Homo sapiens: one gene and its partners. The protein of the gene in region 3 purifies or fractionates together with the protein of the main gene of each other region. This does not show direct contact. Each region holds a gene or a part of one and is shown on either strand. Other genes may lie near its edges. The genes, in order: FAF2, INSIG1 and AMFR.

Region 1 (3,823 bases), on a different chromosome or scaffold from region 3:
TGCCACTCCGTTTTCCTTCTCAGGCTGCTGTACAGGACAGATTGAATGAGCAAGAGGGCGTACCTAGTGTTTTCAACCCACCTCCATCACGACCCCTGCAGGTTAATACAGCTGACCACAGGATCTACAGCTATGTTGTCTCAAGACCTCAACCAAGGGCAAGTTATTTCATAGCTGGGATTTCCCCCTTTTTTATTTATAAGTATATCCACTTGGTTATATTGATCTCCCTGTGACAGGAGCAAAACAAATATTTAGAATGTAAACCTGTTAGTTAGACTTGGCCCGTTGGGTGTATTATTTTGCCTTGATTCCTCAAGGAATTGTTACAGAAACTACTCATTTTTTTTTTCTTTTCTTTGCCAGTTATTTGGAGAGTGTTTTCTGCCTCTTAAGTTACAATTTGTTTACTCAAGTTCTTTGTTGCTTCAGTTTACTTAATCTTAAACCAGTTTTGAGGAAGTATATGGAATCTTTGTAGGAGCTTTGGCCACGTCTTTGAAATTAGCCTTGAAGGGCTAGTAGCAAGGAGGTGGTTCACTTAAATTTGACAGACATTTAAGAGTACTCCAATAACCTGGTATCTTGCTACTAGGGATCCAGACATGAATAAAGAGCCAGTCTTCCCATTTCAAATTCAATTTCTCACAGTCTATTGAAGGAAGTCAGATGTGTACACTGATAATGAATTCTAAAGAACTGCTTGGACTTTCTTTTTCTTACCCCTGGGGTTATACTCACCTCTTATACTTTTATACTTGCATTTAGAATCCTAAGAAAACACTCCCTTTAACATTGCAGCAGTTAGAATTTACTCCATCATCAAGCCTTTTTGTGGAGTACTTGATTTTTGTTGTGTTTTGTTCTGTTTGAGACAGGGTCTCACTCTGTCGCCCAGCCTGGAGTGCAGTGGCATGATCTTGGCTCGCTGCAGCCTAGACCTCCCGGGCTCAAGCAGTCCTCCACCTCAGCCTCCTAAGTAGCTGGGACTACAGGTGTGCGCCACCATCCTGGTTAATTTTTGTATTTTTTGTAGAGATGGGGTCTTGCTATGTTGCCCAGGCTGGTCTTGAACTCCTGAGCTCAAGTTATCTGCCCACCTCAGCCTCCCAAAGTGCTGGAATTACAGGCTTGAGGCACTGTGCCTGGCCTACTTGATGTTTTAAAACATGTTTCTAAGTAGTGCTCTGTGGTTTTCTGAAGTACAGTAGCAGATTCCCATGTCAGCCATGGGGCTCCAGAGCTTCCTGGCCACAGACACAGAAAGTGTCTCAGGTTAACACAATGTGACAACTATGAAATGCTTTATAAACTATAGAGCCCTGGATGTATGCTAGTTTTAATAATTAATAACAGCAATAATAATTAGCATTATTACTAAGATAAGCAGCTATATGGGGATTTGTCATTGTGGTTAATATAATTATTTAATGTTTATATACCAATGTCCAAGGTTAGTAATAGTGATTATCTTTCTTGCTATTTCTATATACATTATTTTAGGTTTTTATGTTTGTTTGTTTTGTTTTGGGACAGAATCTCCCTCTGTTGCCCAGGCTGGAGTGCAGTGGTGTGATCTCAGCTCACTGCAACCTCAGCTTCCCAGGTTCAAGCGATTCTCCTGCCTCAGCCTCCTGAGTAGCTGGGATTACAGGCGCCCACCACCGCGTCTGGCTAATTTTTGTATTTTTAGTAGAGACAGGGTTTCACCATGTTGGCCAGGCTGGTCTCAAACTCCTGACCTCAAGTGATCTGCCTGCCTTGGCTTCCCAAATTGCTGGGAGTACAAGTGTGAGCCACCACACCCAGCTAATTTTTGTATTTTTAGTAGAGACAGGGTTTTACCATGTTGACCAGGCTGGTCTCGAACTCCTGACCCCAGGTGATCCATCCGCCTCAGCCTCCCAAAGTGTTGGGATTACAGGCGTGAGCCACCAAGCCTGGCTTATTTCTGTATACCATATTTTGATGTGTAAATCTAAAAAGGAAAGAATGAGTGTGTATCATTTGGGGAACATTAATTTGCAATTGAATTTGACAAGTCTATAAGTAGCTGCCAAAAATAAGTATTAAGGCAGTTTTGGTTTTTATTTGTTTGTTTGTTTTTTTGAGACAGAATCTTGCTCTGCCCCCAGGCTGGAGTTCAGTGGCGCGATCTCAGCTCACTGCAACCTCCGCCTCCTGGGTTTAAGCAATTTTCCTGCCTCAGCCTCCCTGAGTAGCTGGGACTACAGGTGCATGCCACCATGCCTGGCTAATTTTTGTATTTTTAGTAGAGATGGGATTTCACCGTGTTGGCCAGGCTGGTCTCAAACTCCTGACCTCAGGTGATCTGCCCCACTCAGCCTCCCAAAGTGCTGGGATTACAGGCAGGAGATACAGCTCTGGACCTTAAAGCAGATTTAATACAAAAATTCTGCAAAAAAAAATGATAGTAAGATGAAATAAGACCAAAGATGGTGGCACTTAGAAGGATGAGGTGGCCAGGAAGAAGGAACTGTACTTTAGAGGAACAAATCACATGGAAGGACCAAAAAGAGTGAGAAAATCTGACCTAGCCATTTGATAAAATATTAGGGATTGAGAGAATTGTCTCTAACTTTGTTTTTGGACTTTCAGGGGCTGCTTGGATGGGGTTATTACTTGATAATGCTTCCATTCCGGTTTACCTATTACACGATACTTGATATATTTAGGTATGTACCTTTGGATTTATGTATTAGTAGAATAGTAAGACTTTGGAGCTGAAATTTAGGCCAAAATAAGCTTTATGCTCTATCAATGTTGACTTACCAATTTGTCATGAGATGGAATACACTTCCCGAACTGTCTTTTAATACAACATACAAGTATTTTAAATTGTTGAAGCATTGGCAGGCATTGTGAAATGGAATTGTTTTTAAATTAGTCTTACCTTTTGTTTGCAAAAACCAGTCTGACTATATTTATTTGTCTCCCCCTCCCCCCCCCACCATATTTGTCACCTCTACACTTCCTAGTTGATGTCCACACCCTTTCCTTTCTAACCACTATCATCTCCTAGCTTCACACTCCTTAGAACTTTCTTCCTCAACTACTTCTCCTCCACCTGACTACTCACAATCCCAACAAATTCTCTTGCTCTGAGATTACCCAGTTTGCCCTTGATTCCTCCCACAATAGTTGGACCTCCCTAGACACTCCTGTTACACCTTTTCTTTCTTTTTCTTTCTTTTTTTGAAACAGAGTCTTGCTCTGTCGCTGTCACCCAGGCTAGAGTGCAGTGCCACCATCTCGACTCACTGCAACCTTCACCTCCTGGGTTCAAGCGATTCTCATACCTCAGCCTCCCAGATAGCTGGGATTACAAGCATGCGCCACCACGCCTGGCTAATTTTTGTATTTTTAGTAGAGACAGTAGAGATGGAGTCTCATTTTGTTGGCCAGGCTGATCTTGAGCTCCCGGCCTCAAGTGATCCACCTGCCTTGGCCTCCCGAAGTGCTGGGATTGCTGGCATGAGCCACCATGCCTGGCAGCTTCGGTACCTTTTCACTTTGCTCTGGCAGCCCCTAGGTTGCAAACACTGGAACCCTTTTATGTATATACCCACTTGCTTCATACCTTCACCTTTCTTCTAGCTTCCTTCATGTACCATTAAAAGAGCTCATCATTGGAAGCTACAGAGGGTCCAAGGCCAGAAAATGAGTGGGGCTCAACTGGCCGGGCTCTGTGGCTCACGCCTGTAATCCCAGCACTTTGGGAGGCTGAGGTGGGCGGATCACAACGTCAGGAGATCAAGACCATCCTGGCTAATACGGTGAAACCCTGTCTCTACTAAAAATA
Region 2 (3,823 bases), on a different chromosome or scaffold from region 3:
TGGGAACGCAGTGACAATCTCTACCTACGACTCAGAGGCCACGCTGGAGGCCCTCAGCAGGAACCCCACGGGCAACCTTCCCACATTCCCACGGGACATCTTGGTCGGTGTAAGTGCAACAGCCACAGAGCCACAGGGTGCCTCTATGACTCCAGGATCTTCCATGGTTCATAATGTCCCAGTACAGATGAGAGGAGGGACAGAGTCAGAGAGGCTGGGTTGTATGAACACTGGTTTATTAGGTAGATAGGAAAAGAAGAATGAAGTCAATAGTCTTTAGCAAGCCAACTAGCTCAAGGAATAGACAGCCCCTTTCCATTCTGGAGACAACACATAAATCTATTAATATTAAATATTGTCATGAGGTATGCACCTGCCCACAGGGGTATTATGATGGAAATACTGGGGTAGTCTGCAGGGCCAGGTACAAATGACGGGAAACAAAGCCAGAGAAACTGAAATACCTCTTGGACCCCAGAAGACAGATGTACTGATTTCTGGGATGTCAGGAGCCCAGTGCAGAGCAGCTGGATAGGTCGCTAAGAGCTTTCCCTTCTGCTTATCGGGTCTCACACACCTGGATAAACCAGTTATTGAAAGCTGACCTGCTAATGAGAAGCTTCTGGCACTTGCTGGTGTTTCCTAATTGAATGGGTGACTGCCCCGCATCTCAGGGCCGGGGCTCCCGTGCGGACGCCTCTCCATGAGGTTAGCAGCTTGATTTAGATCAGCGTGCGGGACGGGGAGCTCACAGTGGGGTCGAGGAGACACAGCACAGGCTTCTGAAAGGTGCCCTGTCCATTAGGGAGCACCCCATTTACAGATGGGTCATCCTTCAGCTCACTAGTTTCCCAGCGCATGACAGTGGGTAGCTTTTTTTTTTCCTATTATAAACAAATCTTCGATGTGACTGCGATGATCTACGGATGATCTACGTATCTGGTTGTGTGATCCTCAAGCACTTATGCAAGGTGGAGTGTAAACAATGGCCAAGACCCAAACTGCAATGTTCCCTGAAGTCCAACCTGCTTGGAGTCCTTGGGAACGTGTACAATGGTTAACAGGCTTGAGAGGAGTCAGCTGGGAGAGTGAGAGCGAGACTGCCCTGCAGAGGGGCCGCTGAGGATGGACCCCTGTAGGCCGTCCACACCCACCACGCGTGTCATCCTCAGGAAATGCAACCGGATGCTCGGAATTTCGCCCCTAAAGCGACTCAGGGCAGTCTCAGCTCAGGAAGACTTCTTTTTTTGACCTTCTGGCTTAAAGCCACAACCCCAGGCTGAGGATGCCACATCAACGGCGTTTCCTCGCCACGCTGCAGGCGTGACTCACGTTTCTAAGCCTGCAGGGTCCCCGGGCCAAGCGCGGCTACTGAGAGCACAGCGTCCTCCCTCAGCCCCTGCTCATCTGCACGGAGCAAAGCCGCAGCTTTCTCTGCTGTCAGCGCTTTATACGACTCGGATGTAGGCTCTGAGCGGGCACGGGCCCGCCCTCAGACGGCGACCCGAGGGGCAAACAGGATGGAGGCGCGCTCCCTTGGAGGCTGTGGTCTCGATTTTATCTGCTCCTGGGTGGTGCGGGTGGTTTGCTCTCTAGGCGTGAGCAAAGGCCACAAGGGGCCCGAAAAAATCACCCAAGGATGCAAGCCCGCCATTGCGCTGAGCAGGGGCCTCCCCGCCGCCAGAGCCCGCGCCCCTCCAGGGAGGCCCGCGCGATCGAGACCCGCCGCCTCCCGGCCAGGCGCGGGACACCAGGCGAGGGGAGCCAGGAGCCGGGAGGGGCGGCGCCGGGCCCGCAACCCCACCCTGTCCTGCCTCCGCCTCCTCCCGGCAGGACCGTCCCCTCCCAGGCCCCAGCTCCGCGGCCGCCCACTCGCAGCCGGCCAGTCCCGCTCGGGCCCGCGTGCCCCGCAGCCGCCACGCGCCCCGCAGTCCGTGCCGAGGCTCCCGCCCGAGTGCGCGCGGGCCGGCGGTGGCGTGTGCGCACGTCATATGGGCCGCCGGCCTCCCATTGGTTGCGGCCGCCTCACCAGACCGCGTGCGGACGGGCTCGCGGGCGGGGCGGGGCAAGCTCAGGCCACGCCCCTGGGCGGTGCGCGCGGGCGGTGGGTAGGCCGGGCAGGCTCACGTGATGCGGGCCCCGCGGCCCGCCATATAAACCCGCGCGCCCGCCAGGCGCTGCGGCCGTCCCGGGCCGTGACTCCTCCTTTCCCCCGCCCCGCCTCCGTTCGGAGAGCCGGCGGGCGGGCGCCTCTCGGCCAGGTACGCGGCCGGCTGGGATAGGGGTCGCGGGCGGGCTTTGGTCGCGCAGCAGCCGGTCCTCCCCGGAGGTAGGCGGGCGCGGGCCCTGTTGGGTCTTTGGGACGCGGGTCCCGCTGGGGCCGGGGATGCTGCTCGCTGTGAGCGCGGGTCCCGTCCGCCGCTGGCCCCGGGCGGGCGCACGGGGGTCTAACCTTGGGGGGCGGCGCTGCCGCCTGGCCCGGGTGCCGGGGTTCGCGTCCCGCGGGGCCTTCCTCGCTCTTTGTCTCTTCTGAGTGAACTTGATGACCCCCTTCTTCCAGGAAGCGCCTCTTGGACGCGTGTGACCGATGCCCAGATTGCACGACCACTTCTGGAGCTGCTCCTGTGCGCACAGCGCGAGGCGCCGAGGCCCCCCGCGAGCCAGCGCCGCGGGGCTGGCGGCCAAGGTTGGGGAGATGATCAACGTTTCCGTGTCCGGGCCCTCCCTGCTGGCGGCCCACGGTGCCCCGGACGCTGACCCCGCGCCCAGGGGCCGCAGTGCTGCGATGAGCGGCCCCGAGCCCGGCAGCCCCTACCCCAACACCTGGCATCATCGCCTGTTGCAGAGGAGCCTCGTGCTCTTCTCGGTTGGGGTGGTCCTAGCCCTGGTGCTCAACCTGCTGCAGATCCAGAGGAATGTCACTCTCTTCCCCGAGGAGGTGATCGCCACCATCTTTTCCTCCGCCTGGTGGGTCCCTCCCTGCTGCGGGACAGCAGCTGGTGAGTACCCCTCCTGGTTCTTCTGGAAGTAAAAAGGGTGTCTTTTCGGTTGAAAGTACTTTTCAGCCTATAAGAAACATGCATTTGAAACTGGAACTATCCACAGATTGAAAGTGTGCATCTCCAGTCTTGGGATTTAGAGAAATGAAGGAGGGGTAGAGAGGACCTGGCACCCCCGAGGGCGGGTTCGGGCCACAGCTCTCTGAAGTTTGAGGAAGCACAGTGATGGAGATGAGGCAGGGAGATAATTGGCTGTTCAAGCAGGTGCTGTGCCAAGCTGACTGAGGGCCCTTCCCTCCTGGCGTCCGGGTACAGCCCCAGCTGTCATCCCGCGCCAGCCGCCCCGGATTGGCCGCCTGGGGAACTGGTGAGCAGCGGGACTGAAAGGCCATTGGTCGCGGCAGCAAACATGCTACCCTGCTGGATAACTGAAAACAAACCCGTCACATGGGTTCAGGAGGCGGTTGCCAGGGGAGCAACTTCTCAGCACTTCCTTTTGCCGGGTCGCTGAGTAAACTGTGGTCTGAAGCCAAACCGCCTACACCCTGAACTGTTAGAGCTCTGTAGATTACGTTCTTAAGGAAAAGAGTAACCCCCTTACGGCGTTTAGATTTTCGTACACCCAAGCAGTAGCATAGATGCTGTACAACGTAACACTGAGTCAGTCTGAACTGTGGACACGGGGACTGCTGGGTGTGTGTACTAGACTTTCTTGGCTATCATTGAACCGCTTTTATAGAAATGTTGAGTTGATCTTGGCTCAGCAGATCACTTACTGCTCCTGTAGTCACACAGCATTTGTTTATTTAACGAGCTTGTCGGGT
Region 3 (3,600 bases):
CATCCCTGTGCTTTAGTTTCCTCATCCATACAATAGGTCTTATAATAACAGCATATACCTCATAGAATTGTTGGGGGAATTATACATAATATATGTGAAATGGTTAGACAAGTGCCATACTAGGCACTAAGCACTTAAAAACGCATCAAAAAGCTTCCTTGCTCTAAACCTCCACTTAACATTTTAATCATTTTAGATATTCGATGTCTTTGCCTCTAGCATTACTCTATTTCTAGAACTTTAAGCACCCAAGAGCAAACCCATGTCAATCCTAGAGATTTCTAACTCAAAATGGTTCCTAATTGATGCTACTGGATGACATTAAACATAAATAAACCAACACAGAACAGCAGGGAAGATGCGATCGATGCTGAAAAAAATTAAAGTGGAGCTGGATAAGAAATATGCTCATTATAATTACCTCTGGATCTAGTTAAAAAATCTCTAAAATACTCCAAGGTTATACTTTCTATAAATTTCAACCTGATAGAAGTAACCTTTTAGGGAAAAGAAAGTATATAAAGCCCACTGGTGCCAGATCAATCCACCAAGCCTGCCTGGCCTGACCAATTTCTGGTCCACAAATAAAAAATTTGAAGAGAAACTTGAAGAAGTATCAAAAGAAGCATTTAAGCCAGTAGAAGTGGCTCACACCTATAATTCCAGCACTTTGGGAGGCTGAGGCGGGCGGACTGCTTGAACTCAACAGTTTGAGACCAACCTGGGCAGCATGGTGAAATTCCGTCTCTACAAACACCTAAACAATTAGCCAGGTGTGACACATGCCTGTAGTCTCAGGTACTCAGGAGGCTGAGATGGGAGGAGACTGCTTGAGCCCAGGAGGTTGAGACTGCAGTGAGTGGAGATCGCACCACTGCACTCCAGCCTGGGTGACAGAGCAAGACGCTGTCTCAAAAGAAAAAAAAAAAAAGGCAGCATTTACAACCTATCTGGGAGACCTCTAGAGTCGATACTGGAGAAAGTGCTGAAAATGAAAAATCTCTGAGAATACAAAATAGTCCTGTTCACAATGGCATCCAAGGGCTCAACCACCAAGTAATACATGTCAGCTCTAAACTAGGACTTCAGCTGATTTTATAAAAGGAAATTTGGGTTGAAAAGGGTAGGTAAGGAGAGAATGGAACACTCTGAACATAAAGTAAAGCTGCTGTTGTGCTTTTCATATAGTAGGTTCCTGTGTTTTATCACTGGGATAAGATAGAATAAAACACAATTTTGTTCTTATGTTGTGATTTTGAAGGCCAGTTCTAAATTTTTACTTTAAAACATACCATGCCAGGCACAGTGGCTCACGCCTGTAATCCCAGCACTTTGGGAGGCCAAGGCAGGCGGATCACCTGAGGTCAGGAGTTTGAGACCAGCCCGGCCAACGTGGCGAAATCCTGTCTCTACTAAAAATATATAAATTAGCTGTGGTGCACACCTGTATTCCCAGCTACTTGGGAGGTTGAAGCAGGACAAGTGCTTGAACCCGGGAGGCAGAGGTTGCAGTGAGCTGAGATTGCGCCACTGCACTGCAGCCTGGGTGACAGAGCAAGACTCCGACTCAAAAAAAAAAAAAAAAATTATTCTACACCCTACCCACTCAAATCCTCAGCGAACTGCCAATCTATACAGTATGCTTGTGGCGTAATTCTTCATTGAAAGCATCCCCTGCCCATTCTGAGTCACTTTCCAATGTCAGACAATCTCACCCAAAACAAGAACAAATCTCCTAATTTTATGCTTTTAGAACAATGATTCTTAATTCACCTTCCCACAGAGAAAATTATCTTGGTAAATTCTTTTGGAAAAGAACCCACATTCTACAGAGTGACATTTATGATCATTCAAAATAAAACAAATCTAGGCTTCTTTAAAAACGACATTCCTAAAAGTCATGAAGAAAAACAGCTATAAAAAACAATATTGGGACAACTTGGCTACACTGAATATGGACTGTGGATTAGACAAAGTATTTTTTCAATGTTAAATTTCCTAATTTTAATCACTGTGCTGTAAAAATGCCTTTGCTCTTAGAAAATACAAACTGAAGTATTTAGGGGTAAAGGGGTAATGATGTCCACAACTTACTCTCAAATGAATCAGAAAAAAAAGTATGTATAAATAAAAAGTGAAGATTAAAGCAAATGGAACAAAATATTAACAACTGGCGAATCTGGATAAAGGGTATATAGGAGTTTTCTGTAGTATTCATGGAACTTTTCCACACATCTGAAATCATAATACAAAGTTTAAAAAAAAAAATCTAGTCACAAGAATCCATCCTTTCAGTGTAGACTTACCTGTCTCTCACTCACTCGAAGAGGGCCAAACACAATACACTGGATGAGCTTAGCCACCAACATCAAAACACAGCAAGCGGTATTTACTAGAACCTGTAAACAAATCAGAGAAAGGAAGTTTATTTCTTCCTGCTGAAAAATAAAAGCAGCTCTAAAAATCTCATATTAGGAATTCAGCCATCATTTCCAGTGACTGAGCCTTTCTGGTTCTCTCCCAATGCAAGATAAGGAATATCTGAAAAGGCACACTGTTCTGGGGAGTGGGTGTTAGGGATGAGGACCGGAAAGAGAGGCACCAGCTCACCAGCTAAGTCACAGTTCTTGTCCCAATACGCACCCTCCAGCAGGCCACCTTATCTTTCATCCTTAACTGAATTGTGTGTATACTTTGTACTGTATGTGCAAAACTACATTAACCTCGTAAACTGCAGGTCCTTCCCAAGTACCTCATTTCCGACATTATTTTGACAGCCTTGAAGAAAACTGTTCTAGAAATTGAAGTTACCGTGAATAGTAAAACCCAGCACCCAGAGATTCTGCCCTGCCAAACAAATAGGAGGTAGGGGTAGGAGTGTGGATGGTCACAAAAAAGTCTCATCATAAGGAACTAATAATATAAATATATATATACAGAGAGAATATTTTAATATTTATTGGAATGGAAAAATCTTTCAACCAAAAGATAAATGTTCTCCATGCTTGGTGTTGGCTTTGAAGTAAAGGTTTTGTGGCACTGCAGCAGGGTGGAATGGGTTAAACAGAAGGAAAAGAAAACCGGCGAGAGGGGCCAAGAGATGAAAGGCAACCTGGGGATACCAATGCAAAACCAAGGCCTTCTTCAACAGTCTATGAGAAAACTTGAAAAACAAAACAAAACAAAACAAAACTCTAAATGATGAATATCCTTACACCTAAACGCCAAATCTTAATGCTTACAAAATGGAAGAGTTGGCTGTCCCCAACCCAGAGATTAGTGTGGGGTATCACATTACTCTGAATGACTCCAAAAAGCCAAAAGGACCTTGATAAAAACAGTACAGATGACTTGTTGAGAGCAAATGAAAAGGAACTCCAATTCAATGTAAAGCTGCTTCTGCCTCTGATTCACTACGTTTACCATATTACCCTTGCCAAGTCATTCTTCCCTCTACTTTTAAAAGCAAATGATAATTTTAAAGAAGAAAGAAAGGGGATAGAGGAGAGTAATTTAAGAAAGCAAGATCCCTGAGATCACCTCAGGGTCTGTTTAGTACCTCATGCCATCCCTCCTTTGGGAGAACACTTAAGGGCAGCC

Evidence for each region.
Region 1: the proteins of AMFR (region 3) and FAF2 purify together in Homo sapiens (affinity purification with western blotting; 9 studies listed by BioGRID and IntAct, with this or other methods). This does not show direct contact.
Region 2: the proteins of AMFR (region 3) and INSIG1 purify together in Homo sapiens (affinity purification with western blotting; 6 studies listed by BioGRID and IntAct, with this or other methods). This does not show direct contact.

What each region holds. Positions count from the first base shown.
Region 1 is NC_000005.10:176,486,332-176,490,154, forward strand, and holds part of FAF2 (FAS-associated factor 2), read left to right. Parts: intron 1-23; coding exon 24-158; intron 159-2,619; coding exon 2,620-2,696; intron 2,697-3,823. UniProt on the Homo sapiens protein: Plays an important role in endoplasmic reticulum-associated degradation (ERAD) that mediates ubiquitin-dependent degradation of misfolded endoplasmic reticulum proteins.
Region 2 is NC_000007.14:155,295,699-155,299,521, forward strand, and holds the start of INSIG1 (insulin-induced gene 1 protein), read left to right. Parts: upstream 1-2,179; 5' UTR 2,180-2,261; exon of another isoform or gene 2,262-2,329; intron 2,330-2,452; exon of another isoform or gene 2,453-2,560; 5' UTR 2,561-2,587; coding exon 2,588-2,999; exon of another isoform or gene 3,000-3,282; intron 3,283-3,823. UniProt on the Homo sapiens protein: Oxysterol-binding protein that mediates feedback control of cholesterol synthesis by controlling both endoplasmic reticulum to Golgi transport of SCAP and degradation of HMGCR.
Region 3 is NC_000016.10:56,411,946-56,415,545, forward strand, and holds part of AMFR (E3 ubiquitin-protein ligase AMFR), read right to left. Parts: intron 2,400-3,600; coding exon 2,307-2,399; intron 1-2,306. UniProt on the Homo sapiens protein: E3 ubiquitin-protein ligase that mediates the polyubiquitination of lysine and cysteine residues on target proteins, such as CD3D, CYP3A4, CFTR, INSIG1, SOAT2/ACAT2 and APOB for proteasomal degradation.